Linked DNA regions of Homo sapiens: all the other regions are linked to region 1. Evidence: fine-mapped expression QTL. A gene starts in region 1. Each other region holds a variant in brackets. All regions are shown on one strand. Distances are from middle to middle. Region 1 holds the start of PDCD1 (programmed cell death 1). Region 2 has its middle 13 kb from the start of NEU4. Region 3 overlaps FARP2 (FERM, ARH/RhoGEF and pleckstrin domain protein 2). Region 4 overlaps D2HGDH (D-2-hydroxyglutarate dehydrogenase).

Region 1 (5,000 bases):
GACCATCAGGCAGCCCTGGCCTCAGTGGCCGCAGTCCCCTGGCTCCACGCTGGGCCCACCCCACCAGGTCTCCTCTCCCATGGCCCAGGGGCCTTCAGTGGGACTGAGAGGAGGAGGGAAGGAGAGTGGGTGACAGGGAAGAACTGCAGGGAGAGAGGAGAGGGGTGGGAGAAGGAGAAGGAAGGAAGGGGTAGGATGGAAGCTGGGTTTCTCCCTGTGCCCGCCCCCTACTCCAGGACATGTGTCCAAGCCCTGGCAGGTGGAATTTTGGGGGCAGGGCCTTGGTGGTGAGGAGACCTTCCAGGGGTCTGATAGCATCTCCCATCTCAGAGCCCACCTCCTGGGCCCAGCCTCCCCTCCAGCCCACACAGTGGCATTCCCAGTCCTCAGAGGACAGCTTCGTCCCACAAAGCTCAGAGCCTTGAGGAAGGCCCACTGCTGCCCTGGAACAGAGACAGCATTCAACAGAGGTTGGAACAAGGCTCTACAGGGCTGGGGGCAGAGGGAGGTTCTGTCCAGAATCTGCCTTCAGGACAAGTACAGCCAGCAGGGGCAGCTTAGCCACTTATCCACTGCCTGGGCGAGGCACAGGGCTATGGAGGCACCTACCAACCAACAGTTCTCCAGCCCCAGAGCCCCAGCCCCTGAGGCACAAGGGTGGGTGTGCCAGGAGACAGTTGCTGCGGGCCACCTTAGCTGTCTGGCAGCACAGTGGGTGCTGCCAGGCTCCCTGGGGGCCCCCCGCCAAGCCCACCTGGCCAGCTGGGCCCCCCCCACCTCCCCACCAAGCCACCCACACAGCCTCACATCTCTGAGACCCGGGAGTGGCCCTTTGTTCATAAACGAGAGCTTCCTCGCCGTGGCCGCGCCTCGCAGACATCATCTTTGATGCTCTTTTTCCACTGTTTCGGTGCTTTAATGTTTTCCCTTCAGAGCCGGGCCGAGTGTCTCTCGGAGCCAGGCAGCCGCGCCAGCTGTCAGGCGGTTTCTAGCCTCGCTTCGGTTATTTTAAGCTGATGAGCCTGACGCATCTCATCACTAATATCAGCAGTTTCATTTCTCCTGTTTTCCATTCGCTGTAATAAAATGCTCAGCACAGAATACAAGGAGATAAGCAAGCCATTTCACAAACGCCGGGCCGCCAGCCAGGCCCAGGCACTGGACCCCCTGAACCACCCCACCCTGGCACGAGTGGGCTGGAGGGCAGGGCCCCGGGGAAGAAGGTCAAGGCTGGAAGGGGAGGTCAGCCTCACAGCCAGCCCCTGCCACCGCCCCAGCCCCCCCGTCAGGCTGTTGCAGGCATCACACGGTGGAAAGATCTGGAACTGTGGCCATGGTGTGAGGCCATCCACAAGGTGGAAGCTTTGAGGGGGAGCCGATTAGCCATGGACAGTTGTCATTCAGTAGGGTCACCTGTGCCCCAGCGAAGGGGGATGGGCCGGGAAGGCAGAGGCCAGGCACCTGCCCCCAGCAGGGGCAGAGGCTGTGGGCAGCCGGGAGGCTCCCAGAGGCTCCGACAGAATGGGAGTGGGGTTGAGCCCACCCCTCACTGCAGCCCAGGAACCTGAGCCCAGAGGGGGCCACCCACCTTCCCCAGGCAGGGAGGCCCGGCCCCCAGGGAGATGGGGGGGATGGGGGAGGAGAAGGGCCTGCCCCCACCCGGCAGCCTCAGGAGGGGCAGCTCGGGCGGGATATGGAAAGAGGCCACAGCAGTGAGCAGAGACACAGAGGAGGAAGGGGCCCTGAGCTGGGGAGACCCCCACGGGGTAGGGCGTGGGGGCCACGGGCCCACCTCCTCCCCATCTCCTCTGTCTCCCTGTCTCTGTCTCTCTCTCCCTCCCCCACCCTCTCCCCAGTCCTACCCCCTCCTCACCCCTCCTCCCCCAGCACTGCCTCTGTCACTCTCGCCCACGTGGATGTGGAGGAAGAGGGGGCGGGAGCAAGGGGCGGGCACCCTCCCTTCAACCTGACCTGGGACAGTTTCCCTTCCGCTCACCTCCGCCTGAGCAGTGGAGAAGGCGGCACTCTGGTGGGGCTGCTCCAGGCATGCAGATCCCACAGGCGCCCTGGCCAGTCGTCTGGGCGGTGCTACAACTGGGCTGGCGGCCAGGATGGTTCTTAGGTAGGTGGGGTCGGCGGTCAGGTGTCCCAGAGCCAGGGGTCTGGAGGGACCTTCCACCCTCAGTCCCTGGCAGGTCGGGGGGTGCTGAGGCGGGCCTGGCCCTGGCAGCCCAGGGGTCCCGGAGCGAGGGGTCTGGAGGGACCTTTCACTCTCAGTCCCTGGCAGGTCGGGGGGTGCTGTGGCAGGCCCAGCCTTGGCCCCCAGCTCTGCCCCTTACCCTGAGCTGTGTGGCTTTGGGCAGCTCGAACTCCTGGGTTCCTCTCTGGGCCCCAACTCCTCCCCTGGCCCAAGTCCCCTCTTTGCTCCTGGGCAGGCAGGACCTCTGTCCCCTCTCAGCCGGTCCTTGGGGCTGCGTGTTTCTGTAGAATGACGGGTCAGGCTGGCCAGAACCCCAAACCTTGGCCGTGGGGAGTCTGCGTGGCGGCTCTGCCTTGCCCAGGCATCCTTGGTCCTCACTCGAGTTTTCCTAAGGATGGGATGAGCCCCATGTGGGACTAACCTTGGCTTTACGACGTCAAAGTTTAGATGAGCTGGTGATATTTTTCTCATTATATCCAAAGTGTACCTGTTCGAGTGAGGACAGTTCTTCTGTCTCCAGGATCCCTCCTGGGTGGGGATTGTGCCCGCCTGGGTCTCTGCCCAGATTCCAGGGCTCTCCCCGAGCCCTGTTCAGACCATCCGTGGGGGAGGCCTTGGCCTCACTCTCCCGGATCGAGGAGAGAGGGAGCCTCTTCCTGGGCTGCCCGTGACCCTGGGCCCTCTGTGTACACTGTGACCACAGCCCGCTCCTGGACCCTCTGTGCCCGGCTGGCCCTCTGTGCCCAGCCAGCCTGCACCTGGGGATGCCAAGGCCTGGGGAGGGTGGTTTCACCCAGGCCAAGCCTAAGACAGTCCCTCTGGGCCCTGCTGGGTACCGGGGTGTGACACCACTGGGAGGACAAGATGAGGGGCACCCCTGGGGCCGCCCTGACACCCCCTCGAGGCTCCTGCCCCGGGGGTCCTGGTGCCCCTTCACTGTGGCAGGCGACTGGGGGTTCCCCACCTCGGCCCCTCTCCCGGGGCCTGCTCCCCGGCACCTGAGGCAGCATCCTTGTCAGGGCCGTGCCTTCCTGCCTCAGCGCCACCTCTTAAGGTTGGCCCGTGGGTCACTCAGGACTCAGAACTGGAGATTCTGGGCAAAAGGCAAAGAGCAAAGGGCCAAAAGGCATCCCAGGGAGACGACTGCGGGGGAACCAGAGGGCAGAGGGGCGCTCGTCACAGGGGAGGGGGAGCTGAGCGAGGCAGGAGGGGAGCCGAGCCTCTCCCCCCGTGTCCCGGCTCTTCAGGCACGCCCTCGGGACGCCACCCTCCCCGACCCAGGCGGGAAAGATAAGAGCAAGGTGTCCGCAGCCTGACACTCGTGCCTCAGGTGCCCGCGCTTGTGCCGGACAAGACTCTCACAGGTGGCATGCCTCGGTTTCCCCACTGGTAACAGCACAGGGCACTCAGCAAGGCGCAGTGGGCATGACTGGGGTCCTGTGGGTCCTGACCCAGATGTGGCCACCCCGGCCGCAGTGGTCTTCATTCCAGGATGCCTCTTTTCCCTCCTGATCTATTCACTGCGTTCGCCATTCGGTCATTCCCGGGGCCACCACTCCCACCTCAGGTGTGTGCTTCCCTTGTGTTTTATGAGATATCCCCAACCCGGCTGCTTATTGGCCCCGTCCGAGGGCAGGAGCATAAATAAGAGCCTCTGCTTTGGCGTGGGACCACTGTGAGCTCCAGTCAGCGCTGCCACTGCTGAGCTCTGGGCCTTCGACAGGACTTGGCCCCTTACTGACTTCTCCGTGTGCTTTGGGTCATGGGTGAGGACGCCTCCTGGCAAGGCTGCGTCCTGAGGATTAAATCGGGTCATCTGTGAAAACTACCCAGCCCAGCCCCTGACACTTTTTTGTTTGTTTCTTTTAGTGACAGGGTCTTGCTCTGTCACCCAGGCTGGAGTGCAGTGGTGTGATCTCGGCTCACTCGACCTCCGGGGCTCAAGCAATTCTCCCACCTCTGCCTCCAGAGTAGCTGGGACTATAGGCACGTGCCACCCTGCCAGGCTAATTTCTTCCATTTTTTTTAGAGACAGGGTCTCGCTATGTTCCCCAGGCTGGGCTCAAATGGTCCTCCCACCTCAGCCTCCCCAAGTACTGGGATTACAGGCATAAGCCACTGCATCTGGCCTCCATGACACATATTTTTAAAGTCTGATTTTTAAAGTCAAACTTTTGAAGTCAGATTTTAAACGGACTATTTTGAAAAATATACAAAAACGTTTAAAAACAATGAATATCCCTCACCTAGAATCAATAACTAAGAATATTGACACATTTGCTTTGGGGACTGGGCGGCTGGAGCTGCCATGACAAAGCTCCGCCGACCGAGTGGCTTTTAAACAGAGCCTGCCCTCTCGCCGACTGAGGGCTGGACGTGCAGGATGGAGCTCCGCAGGGTCGGCTCCCCTGTGCTCTGAGGGGCTCTGCTCAGCCTCTCCCGGCTGTGGCTTAAAAACAGAGCCTGTCCTCCCGCCGTGGGGGGCTGGACATGCAGGACCGAGGGGCCACAGGGTCGGCTCCCTGTGCTCCGAGAGGGCTCTGCTCAGCTTCTCCTGGCTGGGGGGTTTTGTGGCCACCCTCTGTGTTCCTGGGTTCAGAAGCATCCCCCAGGCTCTGCCTTCATCTCTGCACGGGTGACTCTGTACAGGAAGCCAGGCCTGCTGGTCAATGGCCACCCAGCCCTGTGCCCTCATCTTACCTAGTCCCAGCTGCCGTCACCCTATTCCTAATAAGGCCGCCTTCTGAGGTCATGGGGTTAGGACTTCCACATAGGAATCTGTGGGGACACGGTTCGGCCC
Region 2 (5,000 bases), 37 kb after region 1:
CGGGCCTGGTCCCCGCATCGCTGTGCAGTGATAGCAGCTGACGGTCTCGCTTTGGGAGAAACGGGAGATAGATACACACACACTGACATTTACATTTCACTTGTGTGCGTTCGGGGAAAGCTGCGGAATGAATGGGACGGAACGACACTCTGGTCTGAGCAGGTAAAGCAGGTGCTTGGGGCCACGAGAACTTTTTTAATCACATCAAGTGGAACACGCTTGAGACAACGGTTTCGGAAGCCACGCAGGTGCGCTGCGAGATCGTTTCTACCACCTGAGAACCGTCAACAACAGAGGACTTGCCGGGCCTTGATCTCCACATCTGGAAAACAGACACGTTCTCCACCCCGCGGGCCTTTATTTCATACTAAACGGAACGACGCGCTTGAAGCACGTGGCGTGGAGCGAGCCTTCTGCGCATGCGCAAATGCTTCCTCCTCGCCCCTCTGCGCACGCGGCAGGAGCAGAAAGTCAGACAAAGAGAACGTCGTGGAGAAGAACACAAAGGGAGACAGAGACACAGAGAAAGAGAGAGACAGAGACACAGGGAGACAGAGACACAGAGAGAGACACAGAGACACAGAGAGAGACACAGAGACACGACAGAGACACAGAGTCAGAGACAGAGAGACAGAGATACAGAGACAGAGAGACACAGAGACAGAGACACAGAGAAAGAGAGAGACAGAGACACAGGGAGACAGAGACACAGAGAGAGACACAGAGACACAGAGAGAGACACAGAGAGACAGAGACACAGAGTCAGAGACAGAGAGACAGAGATACAGAGACAGAGAGAGACACAGAGACAGAGACACAGAGAAAGAGAGAGACAGAGACACAGGGAGACAGAGACACAGAGAGAGACACAGAGACACAGAGAGAGACACAGAGAGACAGAGACACAGAGTCAGAGACAGAGAGACAGAGATACAGAGACAGAGAGAGACACAGAGACAGAGACACAGAGAAAGAGAGAGACAGAGACACAGGGAGACAGAGACACAGAGAAAGAGAGAGACAGAGACACAGAGAGAGAGACAGAGACACAGGGAGACAGAGACACAGAGACAGAGACACAGAGACAGACACACAGAGACAGACACACAGAGAGACAGAGACACAGAGTCAGAGACAGAGAGACAGAGACACAGAGACAGAGACACAGAGAAAGAGAGACAGAGACACAGAGACAGACTCAGACACAGAGAGAGACAGAGACACGGAGTCAGAGACATAGAGAGACAGAGATACAGAGTCAGAGACAGAGACACAGAGACAGAGACACAGAGAGAGACAGGGACAGAAAGCGTCAGAGACACAAAGAGACAGAGACAGACTCAGAGACAGAGAAAGAGAGACAGAGACACAGAGACAGACTCAGAGACACAGAGAAGAGACACGGAGTCAGAGAGACAGAGACACAGAGTCAGAGACACAGAGAGACAGAGACACAGAGTCAGAGACACAGACAGACACAGAGTCAGAGACACAGAGAGACAGAGACACAGAGTCAGAGACACAGAGGGAGACAGAGTCACGGAAAGAGACAGACACAAACACAAAGAGAGACAGCCCAAGACACAGAGACAGAGAGAGACACAAACACAAAGAGAAACAGAGACAGACACAGAGACAGAGAGACAAGGACAGAGAAAGGATGGGGGAGGGAGAGAGGGAGCAAGAGAGTAACTCCCAGCTGATTAAACACAGCAAAGAGAGAATTCGTGAACTAGAAAAAAAAAAAAGCCAAGGAAAACCAACCAGAATGCAGCACAGACACGAACGAGAAGGAGAGTGCACAGCAGAGGGCCATGCGGATGGTGAGGGGTCCCACACCTGCGTCCTGGAGCCCAGAAGGCGGGAGCAGGGTGGGACCCTGGTGGCCACACAGCTGTTTCCCGAGGCTGCATAGCAAATCACACAGACCTGGAGGTTGAAACGACACAAATGCATCCCCAGAAGTTCTGGGGGCCGGGGGTCTGACATGGCCTCCCCGGGCTAACATCAAGGGGTCCGCAAGGCTGGTTCCTCTGCAGGCTGTCCGGGCTTCGCTTCCCGTCTTTTCCAGCTTCCAGAGGCCACCGGCTCCTCAGCTGTGGCCCCTCCTCCATCTTCAAACCCAGCTCCAAGGCCTC[C/T]TCCCTCCTCTCCCACCCTTTGTCCCCTCCCATAAGGACCCTGGTGAGACCCTGGACCCACCCAGATGACCAGGATGATTTCTCACCTCAAGACCCTCAGCCGGCCCCCTCGGCGCAGCCCTTCGCCATGACGTCATGGTGCAGGCCCCGGAATGAGGATGCAGACGGCTTCCGGGCCCTTGTTTGGCCTATCAGACATCAAGGCTGTTTAACATCTTCCTGGAGGTCCTTGCCAGCCCAGTAAGCCAGGACAAGAGGTAAAAGGATGAGGGTTAGGAAGGAACCACAGAGACATCCTGCCTCCACGACAGAGCCCTGACCCCAGCACTGGCACCGTGTTCCCCGCCACGTTCCTGAGCCACTGCCCGGCCCAGCCTGGGCACAGCAGCAGGAGTTGCCCCTAAGGCTCAGGGTGTGCGTTCGCCCCCCTCACCCTACTGTGAAGGAACACCGGAGGCTGGGTGATTCTTAAGGAAAAGAAGTTTAATCGGCTCCCGGTTCTGCAGGCTCTACAGGAAGCGTGGTGCTGGCATCTGCTCGGCTTCCGGGGAGGCCCCAGGAAACCCACAATCCTGGTGGAAGAGAAGGGGGAGCAGGCACGTCACATGGCGAAAGCAGCAGCAAGGTGGGGAGGTGCCGCACACCTTTAAACAGCCAGGTCTCGGGGGAACTCGCTGTCATGAGGACAGCACCGAGGCGATAGCAGTAAACCCTTCCTGAGAGTCCACCCCATGATCCAGTCACCTCCCACCAGGCCCCACCTCCAACACTGGGAATTACAATTCGACATAAGATTTGGGAGGGGACACAGATCGAAACCATACAGGGGTGGAAGGAAGGAAAAGAGGCTGGGAGAGCAGCCATCGGGAATGTGGAGGTGGGGCAGGGGCTCAGGAGCCGGTTGGGTGCCGGGGAGCCGCCCGTGGTGGGAGGAATCTAGGGGGCTGGTCTCTCTCGAGGCACAGGCCTCCCAGGATGCCAGAGGAACTCCCAGTGCAGCAGGGGGGAAGGACTGTCCCCAGGCACAGCGACCCCCCCACCAGCAGACACCAGATGTCCTGAGCCTGCCACAGCTGGGGCAGTGGCAGGAGGGCAGGAGGAAGGGCTCAACCTGCCCTGAGCCAGGCAGCCCCCCCGCCACACCCTCTCCCAGCCTGGGGCATCACACCTGGCAGAGCCTTCCCCGGTCCTGAGCAGCTGCCCAGACCTGGAGGAGTCAGGGCCTCGGAGCCCTGGGCCCCACCTGAGGAGGCCACGGCTGCTAGGAGGGGCCCTTGGCAGGGCCAGCTCCGGCCCCTTCTTCAGACCTGACCCAACCCCAGCTCAGAGGGTGCTCCAGCCGCAGACAGCCCGAGACATCGAGAGGCTCCACCACGGCGACCGGAGCTCCTGGGGACCTCGAGCCCAAGTCTGTCTGACACAGGCCGAGGCTGCACATGGCCGGGCAGTGACGGCCAGGATCCCCCGGGGTCTGAGGCCCATGTGGACAGACGGACGGACGGACAGACGGCAAAGGCAGGAAGGTGTGCTGCTTCCCAGGCTGCCGCAACAAATCTCACCGACTGGCGGCTGAAGCAATGCAAATGCGTCCTCTCGCGGCTCTGGAGGCCGTCTGAAGCCAAGGGTGACAGGCCCGCACCCTCTCTGAAGGCTCCAGCGCAGGGTCCTTCAGCCTCTTCCAGCTCTGAGCAGCCCCCGTGGCTGGTGGCGGCATCACTGCAGCCTCTGCCTCCACCTTCACATGGCTCCTCCCTGCGTCTGTGACTCACAAGGACGGACGTCACTGGGCTAAACCCACTGCAATCCAGTATGACCTCCTCTTACCTCCATCACGTCTGCAAAGGCCCTACTTGCAAATAAGGTAGCAAAGTCTGAGCTTCCAGGGGGACATGAAGCTGGGGACGCCGCTCACCCCAGTATAGAAGAGAATGACGAAGAATGGGCCATGCAGAGCTGCAGTGGGCTCCACGGCTTCCAGAACCCCAGAGAGGCCTGTGGCTCCTTTGCTTCAGATCTGAAGGCAGAAGAGTGGACTGTGATGACCCTGCTAGCCACGAGCCAGGACACACGCATGACAGGATGCACCCAGCACACGACCTACACACGGGCCACGAGCCAGGACACACGCATGAGAGGATGCACCCAGCACACGACCTACACACGGGCCACGAGCCAGGACACACGCATGACAGGATGCACCCAGCACACAACCTACACACACACCACGAGGCAGGACACACGCATGACAGGATGCACCCAGCACACGACCTACACACAGGCCACGAGCCAGGACACACGCATGAGAGGATGCACCCAGCACACAACCTACACACACACCACGAGGCAGGACACACGCATGACAGGATGCACCCAGCACACGACCTACACACGGGCCATGAGCCAGGACACATGCATGAGAGGATGCACCCAGCACACAACCTACACACACACCACGAGGCAGGACACACGCATGACAGGATGCACCCAGCACACGACCTACACACGGGCCATGAGCCAGGACACATGCATGAGAGGATGCACCCAGCACACAACCTACACACACACCACGAGGCAGGACACACGCATGACAGGATGCACCCAGCACACGACCTACACACGGGCCACGAGCCAGGACACACACGACAGGATGCACCCAGCACGCAACCTACACACGGGCCACGAGCCAGGACACACGCATGACAGGATGCACCCAGCACATGACCTACACACGGGCCACGAGCCAGGACACACGCATGAGAGGATGCACCCAGCACGCGACCTACACACGGGCCACGAGCCAGGACACACGCATGAGAGGATGCACCCAGAACACAACCTACACACACACCACGAGGCAGGACA
Region 3 (5,000 bases), 450 kb after region 1:
AAGCTGCTGAAGGCGATACACTGCCACACTGCCAAGCTCAGAAACCTGCTCCTGTGCCTACCTCCCCAGGCCTGTAGTCTCCACACAAGAGGCTGTGGCCACTATCCTAAAACATGCTCTCTTGGCACCTGTGCCCTTCCATGCTTCTGGCTGCTAAAGGCTCTTGTGGGTGCCTCCTCCTGCACTCAGCCTCTCAAATGTCAGTTCTTCAGGGGTTCATCCTGGGCTCTTCTCCCTTCCTGACCTGTATCTGCCCTCTGCCTAGCTGATTTCACCCACTGCACAGGTTAGCCCAGCCTACGTGCTGACAACACTCTCCCCAGCATCCCAAACCCACCCATCCACTAGGGACTGTCCTTCAGGTTGGACAGTTCGCAGCACAATGCCCAATTCTCCCTTCCTCATGTCCAGCCCCTGCTGTGTGTCTCAGCAGGGAGAGACTATCCCCAACCCTAGGAATGCAGACTGAACCAGTGACCGTTTCCTGCTGGGATGGCACACAACACTAGCAGAGGGCCCTTGGCTCCATGGGTCAAGGTCTGGATGTGACACTCAGAACAGCTGTACCTTCCTCACTACCAGCTAGAATAATGGCAACACTTGAAAGAGGCAAAGCCAAGGGTACCTGGGAGAATAGAGCAGGAGCTCTACCTGTACTGCCCTGCATGGAGGCCTCCTCAAGGTCAGGTCAGGCAAATGGATGAGAAGCACCGACTTACACACACAAGATGCCCCACACCGTCATGTCCGAGATGGAGCTCTGCACGCATGGTCTGACCGTATGTACAATGGAGTAAAACAGTGCATGCCATGATGTGGGTTTGAGGATTACACAAAAATGCTCGTAAGAGCTGTCCGTAATTGCCACTACAGCCTCTCCAGTATCAGTTGGCACTTCTACCTCCAGCCCTTGAACCCAAACTGCCCAAGCCATGCTGGAACCTCCCTCTCCTCTCTGCTTCCTTCTCCCTCCCTTCCCAGGCTGGTGCTTTGCCTGGAATGCTTCCTCCCTGGCTTTGTCCGCCTAGGTCCTCCCACGAGCCTCCTTGAGCCTGCCCTCGGCCTTCTTTCAGCTCACAGCGTATGAGCTATGCTCCCGCTACACTGCACACATTCTCATCTGTAGAAACGCATCTGTATATCTCATGACTGCCATGCTGTCGGGCACACAAAAGGCACTCCCCTGCAAACACAAGAGATCCCCCACACTGGGAGTGGTGAGGTGCACGAAATCCACACAATCTTACGGGGTAAGGTAAGATCTGTATGGGTAGGCACCTCAGTCTGTGCCGTTCAAACCAGCTCCCCAGTGCTGACAGCAGTGGTGGATGCATAGCTGGCACTCATACTTTGAAGGTGTGAAAGGGCAGCTGCCAGCAGGTCCCGGTAGAGCCTTAACGACACACATGAACATACATGATCTGACAAACAAACCTGCATCTCAACAGGATGTGTCACAAAGGCAAGGCTAAGTCCTCCTGACTCACTTTCACCAGCTGAGTGCTCCCCTTTGGTGACTAAAGCTCCCAGCCACCTGGGCCAGAGCCCAGAGCCCTTTCCCATACCGTTCTTCAATCCTTTTCCCCTTAGCTAGCACTCCTTCTCTAGGTCTCTATCACTTCCATCCAGAAAAACCCACCAGTGTCAAGTCTTAGAGAAATCAAAACAAGATGAGATGAAGGCCATGGGTGCCAGGCGATTCCCAATGCCCTGACACAGGCAGACACTGTTAGCCTCACACAGTCCCCTCCTCCTCTACCACAGCACAGTGTCTTCCCCGTAGAGGACTCTTTCTGCCACACTGCAGAGACACTGCAGCAGCTGACACCCCCCCAATAGCCACCCCATCCTGCTCAGTAGCATCCTCCTCCCCCAGACCCTGATGTCTTTTCCAGCACCTTTTTTTTTTTTTTTGAGACGGAGTTTCACTCTGGTGCCAGGCTGGAGTGTAGTGGCACGATCTTGTCTCACTGTAACCTCCACCTCCTGGGTTCAAGCGATTCTCCTGCCTCACCTCCTGAGTAGCTGGGACTACAGGTGCCTGCCATTAGCCCAGCTAATTTTTTGTATTTTTAGTAGAGATGGGGTCTCACTATGTTGGCCAGGCTGGTCTCAAACTCCTGACCTCAGGCAATCCACCTGCCTCAGCCTCCCAGGGTGCTGGGATAACAGGCATGAGCCACCGTGCCTGGCTTCTTCCAGCACCTTCTAAAGCAGCACATCGTGCAGGTGTGAAGGTGCTTCAGGCCAGGGCACCTGTGTGTCTGTGTGTCTGCCAAGCTGCCTCTGGCAGCAGCTGCACATCCTGAGGCCAGGAGCAATGGTCCTTATGTTAGAATCTTGCAGAAGTCACGACAACAGTCCTTTCTCGTTACACACTCTTTAGTCATTACTGTGGTGACAATGTGTTGACAGACAATTGTGATGACTTACACGTGCTTCTGATGGAATTCTAGTATCTTCTCAAGGCAGTGCTGCTGGCCAGGCAAATACTCGTTCACTTTGAGGTGCTCTCGGTCCAGCGTTTCATCGTAATCTCCTATTTCCGCTGAGATAGGTTAAAAGTAAGTAACTAATTTTTAAATAAACTACAAGCATTTGTATGTGTCATTGCATACATTAAAAGTAAAAAAAAATTATCCCAAATTTGTAGCAAAAGAATATATCCCTAAAAAAGCAAGATTTTTT[A/G]TTTAATTTTTCCAAATATTTTATGCTGTTAAAAGGCAAATATAATGGGAAGTGAAGAGGATTTCTTGAAGAACAAAGGCCTGATTAGTAACTCCAGGGAGGCAAACATTGATGAGTTTAATGTGTTTATTATTATTTTGACACAAGGTCTCGTTCTGTTGACCAGGCTGGAGTGCAATGGTGCAATCACTACTCACTGCAGCCTCAACCTTCTGGACTCAAGCAATCTGCCCGCCTCAGCCTCCTAAGTAGCTGGGACTATAGGTAAGCACCATCATGCCCAGCTAATTTTTGTATTTTTTGTAGAGATAAGGTTTTGCCACATTGCCCAGGCTGGTCTCAAACTCCTGGACTTAAGCAATCCTCCTGCCTTGGCCTCCCAAATGTGCTGGGAATATAGGCATGAGCTACTGCACCTGGACTACTATTATTTTTAAACTACACCTTAAACCTAAATTGTCTCAAGATTATCATGATCAGGCTGAAGTATTTTATTTATTTTAGGATAATGTATTTTAAATGATTTTTTTCCTTCAGACCTTCTCAAATTTCTTGATGAATAATGTCTCTGTCTAATTTCATGTATTTTAAGGCCACAATGTCTTAATAACATAAAGTTCAATAATTTAAAGCAATATGCTTTTATTTTTAGACAATCTCATATTCACAGAGAAGTTACAAGCACAGTACAAGAGTTTTTTCTCCTTTGAGCCATTTGAGAGTGAGTTGCTAACATGTTACTTGCCATACTTCAGTATGGACTTCCTATAAACTATGACATTTGATACGGTTTGGCTGTGTTCCCACCCAAATCTCATCTTGAATTATAACTCCCACAAGTCCCACTTACTGTGGGAGGGACCCAGTGGGAGGTAACTGACTCATGGGGGCGGATCTTTTCCGTGCTGTTCTTGTAATAGTGAGACTTTCATGAGATCTGATGATTTTACAAGGGGCCATTTCCCTGTACAAGCCTCTCTCGCTGCCGCCACATCTCTATCAGCAGTGTGGAAATGGACTAATACAATATTCTTACCCGCAGCCTTGTAAAACTACCCAGATCAGGAACAGGGCCACGATCTGAGGCTCCATCCCAGATGTGGACCCTAGTCATATTTTACCAACTGCCCAATTATGTTTTTTATAGCAAAAAGATCTGGTTCAGTCATACATTGCATTCGTTGCCATGTGTCTACCTGAGAAGTCTTTCAGCCAAATGAGTAAGAACCAAAGTCACTTTGAAAACTTTTATTAATCAACACGTCCCCTGGTGGAGGATAGCAAACCCATAATAAAATTTATTATTTGAAGAAGGTATGTCTGGGGAAGGACCAAGGAAGCTGCAAATAACCTATATACTTATTAATTCCTAAAATTTTGGAACTTTCTATGTCATATTTCCTGGATTCAAATTTCAGAAACATTAGTTCTGTGCTAGCTGTGGTCCCACCTCTAGTCCAGGAGCAATGTGGGTATTTCTGTTTTTCTATTCCCATCGCTGGGGGCTCGGCAAGGTGCCAGAACCTCCTCTTACACTTCTCATGGTTTATTTTTGAAGTAACTATAATTCTTGACACAGTTCTGAACCATCTCTTGATCTGTGTGAGATACTGAAGAAATGTCTTCTTTTTCCTTCATGGCTAATGCTTTACTAATCTGAGAGGACTGTAACTTTTATCCCAGTGAGGCCCTTTCCAGGGTTTGCTCAGAGTTTGGTTTATATTCTGACTCTTAGACTGAATATGCATTGCTGGTAAAATGCACAAAGGCATAAATGAGAGACAACCCAAAAGAAGGAACGTGGCTACAGATTTTGGCCTTGGCCTGTGTTTGCTACGTGGAAACTATTTGCCTCAAGGAGTTCCACTTTACAGAAGTTAATCTGTAGCTTATAAAAAACACTGAAGTTGAAACACCTCATTCTATGGTCAGGCTCACTAACTAGGCAAATACATCAGCAACTAATTGTAGTTCTGAGTGCGGGTATATCTGTGCCATGGTCAGTGAATGCTCCCCGCTGGCGGGGAGATACTCACACTGCAGGAGATGGGACGTGAGAAGGGCCGCTGTGGTGTCAGCACAGGTCAAACGCTCTTCCAGCAGGTCTCTCTTAAGTTGCAAGGCAAACAAGTATCTAGAAGAGAGTTCAAAATAAGACAGAGATCAATTCCAAATGTTCTCTGAATGTAACATAGACATGTCTCCACAGCAAGACAGCAAATGAGCCCTGGGAAGTGGCAGTGACCCAACAGTGAGCAAAACGCAAGGCGGTCACGAAACAGCAAAGTCACAAAAGGCCTTTCATGAAACAA
Region 4 (5,000 bases), 89 kb after region 1:
CTGACGTTTGCTGCCTTCCGTCTCTGCTTCGGCTACCTAAAAGGGAAGGGCCCCCTATCCTGTAATCACATGACTTACTTCACCTTGTCAATCACTGAGAAGATTCACCCTCCTTACCCTGCCCCCTTGTCTTGTATGCAATAAATATCAGTGGGCCTAGCCCTCTGGGACCACTACTGGTCCCCGCGTCTTGATGGTAGTGGTCCCCAGAGCCCAGCTGCTTTCTCTTTCTCTCTTTATCTTGTGTCTTTATTTATTACAATCCCTCATCTCCACACACAGGGAAAACACCCGCTAAGCCCCGTAGGGCTGGACCCTACACCTCCACACTGCCAGGATCCTGATGGACGTCCTCAGGGGCCTGCGGCGTCCCAGGAGCCCCAAACCCCAAACCCTTCCTCTGGGCTCTAAGTCCACAACTGTCAGACACCTCTGGGTCCCAACCACTTGCCCTTCTGCTTACAGGAAACTGGCTCCCCCAGGGGCTCTCCCAGGGGCCAGCCGTCCTGGGGGAGGGGAGGGGCGGGCACTCCACTCTCCCTGGGGCTGAGACCACCCGGCCCACCCCTTCTCCCCTCTCCCCTGCTGTACACAGGCAGCTCTGGCCCTGCCTGGGGCCCCTCCCACCACTCTCCTGGCCCCCTCCTTGGCCTCAGCTCAGGGGCCCTGGTTGTGTAACATCTTCTCAGATTGCAGCAGCTTAGAGGTCTTAATGTGACAATCACCAGCTTCTAATCCGAACACAAAGGCCGCCCCTGAGCACCCACCCCGCCCCGACGACCCTGGCTGGAGCCGCTGCAGAATTCCGTCAGAACCCGCCAGGCCGGAGCTGCTGCGGAAGGAACGGGGCCAGAACCCGCCTTCCTCCCCACACACGTGCTCCTCATTGCTCTTTCCGCGTGGCTGCAGGCCTCGTCAGAGCCTCCGGCTGGGAGGTTGGGACGGCGTGGAATTCTCTGCGCGTCTCTTACACACACCTGACCACGGACACTCAACGCCGTCACATGGCCGTTGGGGGAGCTGTCTCCGGGGCACCAAGGCTGGTGGCCTGCCTCACGCAGATTCGCCGCGTTCTCCTGCGTCGGAGTCACTCGGAGTCTGTGTTAACCCGCGGGCTGCGAGAACACGGCCTGCCTGGATGCGATCGGGTCTCATCAGATTTTCCTGCTGTCAGGTAGAGAAATCTAACAGGTTTCCGGCTTGTGAAAACTCCTGGCCTCCCAGCCACCACGCAGTGTGGGTTTTCCTCATGGCAGACAGGCAGTTCTTCGGGCCAGCTCGGGCCAGCCAGGTGTCTCACCGGCACCTGCTTTGCCTGGCTGTGTTGTATTTCACATATCTAAAGGCACAAAAGAAAAGCCTGAGGGGGATCTAAGAAGCCCCTCTCCCCATTGCTGGATAAACTGGAGGTGAACATGGCAGGGCAGGGCAGCAGCGGAGACGGCAGGACCCAGCCACGGAGCTCCAGGAACAAGTGCCCACGGCTGGCAGCAGGGCTGTCATGGGCAGGACGTGCCCGGCACTGGCCTGCTCCGGCCCAACGGTCACCGCAGCCTCCTGGAGCCGGACCCCCAGGGAAGAGCAGCCGCAGCCTCTTCCTCCTCCAACAGTCCTGGACTGTGTCCGCTTCCCCAGTCCCCAGAGGCCCAGCGGAAGGCAGTGTGGATGCAGAGGTCTTGCTCTCCCAGGGTCCAGAGGGCACTAGGGGGAGGAATTCCTCCTCCCCCCTCTGCAGGCACTACCAGCGGGTGTCCCTCAGCAGGCAAGGCCAGGCCTCTGCAGCCCCACAGCCCATGCTGAGCCCAGATCCTCACGGGAAGCCCGGGGCTCTGGGCTTTTCCCTGTCACCCGGCTGGCCTCTCCAACAACAGGAGTGAGCATTTAGACCACGACCAGGGCCGGAGGTCCTTAGGAAAGCAACGGACCCCAGCTCTGAGAATCACAAGTCCCTACCCAGGGTGGGACGTGGGGTCGTGCGGCCAGCACGGGCAGAAGCTTGAAAGCCCCCAAGTCACCCCTGGGCCAGCAGCAGCCACCCAGGGCAGGAGGGCAGGTGCACAGCCAGGGTCAGCGGGTCAGCAACTCACCCTGGCCTGCAGCCTACCCAGCACGGACCATGTGCCCAGTAGCAGAGCTAGAGGAACAAGCAGAAAAATGGCCGGCCCCCAACCAGAGGTCAGAGGGAAGGGCAGGAGCCGCCGGCTGACCTCGGGGGACGCGGGCACACGCTGTGGGGCTTCGTGTCAGGCACCCATGGGGCCTGGGGTCTGCTCTGTGCAACAGATACTGTCGGGCTGCCCATGGGTACCCAGCCTGGGATGGCAGAACAGTGGCCAGAGCCCAGGGACAGAGCCGGGCCTTGGCCAGTGAGGCAGGACAGCCCCAGGTGCCCCCAGGCACAGCAGGAAGTAGCCCAGGCAT[T/C]GGGCGGGACCCACTGGCTCTGCTGGGCCAGCATGAAAGTGCCCCTGATTTGTGCCTTCAAAGCATGCTGGATCGGCTGGACGCAGAGGCTCGGGCCTGTAATCCCAGCACTTTGGGAGGCTGAGGTGGGAGGCCGCTGGAGGCCAGGAGTTCAAGACCAGCCTGGGCAACACAGGGACACCTCATCTCTACAAAAAAAAAAATTTAAAAATTATCTGGGCATGGCCGGGTGCGGTGGCTCATGCCTGTGATCCCAGCACTTTGGGAGGCCGAGGCGGGCAGATCATGAGGTCAGGAGATCAAGACCATCCTGGCTAAGAAGGTGAAACCCCATCTCTACTAAAAATACAAAAAATTAGCCGGGCACGGTGGTGGACACCTGTAGTCCCAGTTACTCGGGAGGCTGAGGAAGGAGAATGGCGTGAACCCGGGAGGCGGAACTTGCAGTGAGCCAAGATCGCACCACTGCACTCCAGCCTGGGTGACAGAACAAGACTCTGTCTCAAAAAAAAAAAAAAAAATTATCTGGGCATGATGGCTCACACCTGTACTCCCAGCTACTCAGGAGGCTGAGGTGGGAGGATCACTTGAGCCCAGGAGGTGGAGGCTGCACTGAGCTGTGACTATACCCCTGCACTCCAGCCTGGGTGACAGAGTGAGATCCTGTCTCAAAAAAAAAAAATCATGCTGGACCAAGGCCCCCACCCATCCCCCGAGGACCTCCACCAGGAGGACGTGGCCTGTCCACACAGAGGCCCTGGCTAGGCAGGCGGGCTCTGCAGGGCAGCGGGTCAGAGGTATGTTTCCCCCTCTGAGCAGGATCCGAGGTCCTCGACACCCACAGGGACAGGAGGGGCCCGTGGATACACCTCGGTCAGGCCCAGCTGCTGAGGGCCTCCAGGGCCACCAAGGGTTATGAGTTGCCCGTTCCATGTCCAGGCCTGCCCTGTGCAGCCGGTGGGAGCTCAGCTGCCACCAGACAGTGCATGGGGACAGGAGGCACAGTGACAGTCACAGTAGTGTCAGGCCCGGCCACACTATGGCCCCAGTGGTCCAGGGGCTGTGGGAATGGGATGCACAGGCCCTTCACAATGGGCTCTGAAAGATGATTTTCCAGTAACAGAAGCAAAGAGAAGGTTGCAACCAATTCAGATTTTTACTGGACATTCATGACAGAATGAGATGTGCATCCAGCTGCATCGCCCAGCCCATCCGCTGCCCAGGGCAGCTGACGAGCAGAAACACACTCTGCAGTGGCCCTTGTCCGTGCCGGGGCCCTCGCCCGCAGCACCGCACGTTCTTTGTAGGAGCAGAACCCGAAACTCAGAGCACAGCTTGCCCTGATAACTGTCTTCCCAGCTGGCAGCCCTCTAGAAGATGTGGGAAATGACACATTCCTGTCCAGACACAAGCCACAGTCACCCCCCTCCCGAGGGCGTCCACGGCCTGAGGGACCCGGCTCCATTCAGCAGAGCCGCAGCGCTCAGGTCCTCTCGGCAACCCACGATCACGGCCCACGTGGTCCTGCCCGTGCCCCCGCTGCCCACGCCCCCTGCTGCCCACGCATGCCCCCCGCTGCCCACGCATGCCCGGGGAACGAGCAGCAAGCAGGCAGAACCACCACCCAGCGCCTGCTCCCCAGGCCGCAGCAGGCAAGATGGGGCCAGGGGCCACCACGCAAGTGAGACCCACCCCGCTTCCACGTGGGCAAAGCTGCCGCCACCCCGGCCTGTCCAGGATGGCTGCAGAGGCCCCACCTCGCCCTGCAAAGGAGGGTGCCTGCCACGCCCCCCACTCTGCCAGATGCTCCTGCCCGAGGGCCTGCGTCCGGCAGTTCCCCAGTGCGGGCTCCCAGTCCCTTCAACCAGGTGCCTGGTCCCCTGCCCACTGCCGGCTCATCCCTCAGAGCCACCGCAACACCCCCGCCCGAGAGCCACCCGCCGACCCCCAGTGGGCCTTGGCAGCAGCAGGAGTGGCCGTCAGGCCTGGCTGGGCAGCGTCTTGTAGGGGTTGAGGATGCCCTTGGGGTCCAGCAGGGCCTTGAGCTGCTGCATGAGCTGCAGGGCCCCCGGTGGCTTGCTGTAGCCCAGGACGTCCCTCTTCCTGAAGCCCACTCCGTGCTCCGCGCTGACGCTGCCCTGCTGCCCGGCCGTCCACTCGTACACGTGGGGCTCCAGGGCAGCCAGGAGCGAGGGGCTGAAGGCCTCCGCCGTCACATTGAGGTGCAGGTTACCATCTCCTGGAGGGACAAGGGCACATGGGTCAGGCTGGGCAGGGCAGCCCCCAGGACCCCACTCCTCCCCCAACAGCCCCTCCCAAGATCCCCTCCCCAGCAACCCCGAGACCCCCGGCTGAGCCTCACCCTCATGCCACTCGCCCTGGACGTGCCGACCCCTCCTCTGGGGCCGCTGCTACCTTGGCTTCTCCCTGCTTCTCTCCCCAAGTTCTCCCCCCTCTTCCTACTCCCTCAGCCCGGGGCTCCCATCTCCCCAACTTCTCCCCCCTCTTCCTACTCCCTCAGCCCGGGGCTCCCATCTCCCCAACTTCTCCCCCCTCTTCCTACTCCCTCAGCCCGGGGC

The links.
Region 2: its variant is fine-mapped to the expression of PDCD1 in monocytes (Quach 2016, PIP 0.95). The same link has a PIP of 0.9 or more in monocytes after Pam3CSK4 and monocytes after R848.
Region 3: its variant is fine-mapped to the expression of PDCD1 in minor salivary gland (GTEx, PIP above 0.99).
Region 4: its variant is fine-mapped to the expression of PDCD1 in whole blood (TOPMed, PIP 0.95).

What each region holds. Positions count from the first base shown.
Region 1 is chr2:241,855,885-241,860,884 of GRCh38, reverse strand. PDCD1 (programmed cell death 1) reads left to right here and starts at 1,991. Exons shown (of 5, transcript NM_005018.3): 1 at 1,991-2,122. The coding sequence starts at 2,047. It overlaps LOC105373977 (a long non-coding RNA gene), which reads right to left. Exons shown (of 2, transcript XR_924076.2): 2 at 4,609-5,000. LOC124908032 (a long non-coding RNA gene) reads right to left here and starts at 1,813. Exons shown (of 2, transcript XR_007088436.1): 1 at 808-1,813. RefSeq lists an enhancer at 1,823-2,785.
Region 2 is chr2:241,819,358-241,824,357 of GRCh38, reverse strand. No RefSeq gene overlaps it. Among named protein-coding and RNA genes, the nearest start is that of NEU4, 13 kb to the right of the region's middle. The variant C/T (reference allele first, on the strand shown) is at 2,139.
Region 3 is chr2:241,410,855-241,415,854 of GRCh38, reverse strand. It overlaps FARP2 (FERM, ARH/RhoGEF and pleckstrin domain protein 2), which reads right to left. Exons shown (of 27, transcript NM_014808.4): 6 at 4,725-4,822; 7 at 2,434-2,548. Among named protein-coding and RNA genes, the nearest start is that of FARP2, 57 kb to the right of the region's middle. The variant A/G (reference allele first, on the strand shown) is at 2,689.
Region 4 is chr2:241,767,370-241,772,369 of GRCh38, reverse strand. D2HGDH (D-2-hydroxyglutarate dehydrogenase) reads right to left here. Exons shown (of 10, transcript NM_152783.5): 10 at 3,559-4,660. The coding sequence ends at 4,401. Among named protein-coding and RNA genes, the nearest start is that of GAL3ST2, 7.0 kb to the left of the region's middle. RefSeq lists an enhancer at 695-1,607. The variant T/C (reference allele first, on the strand shown) is at 2,422.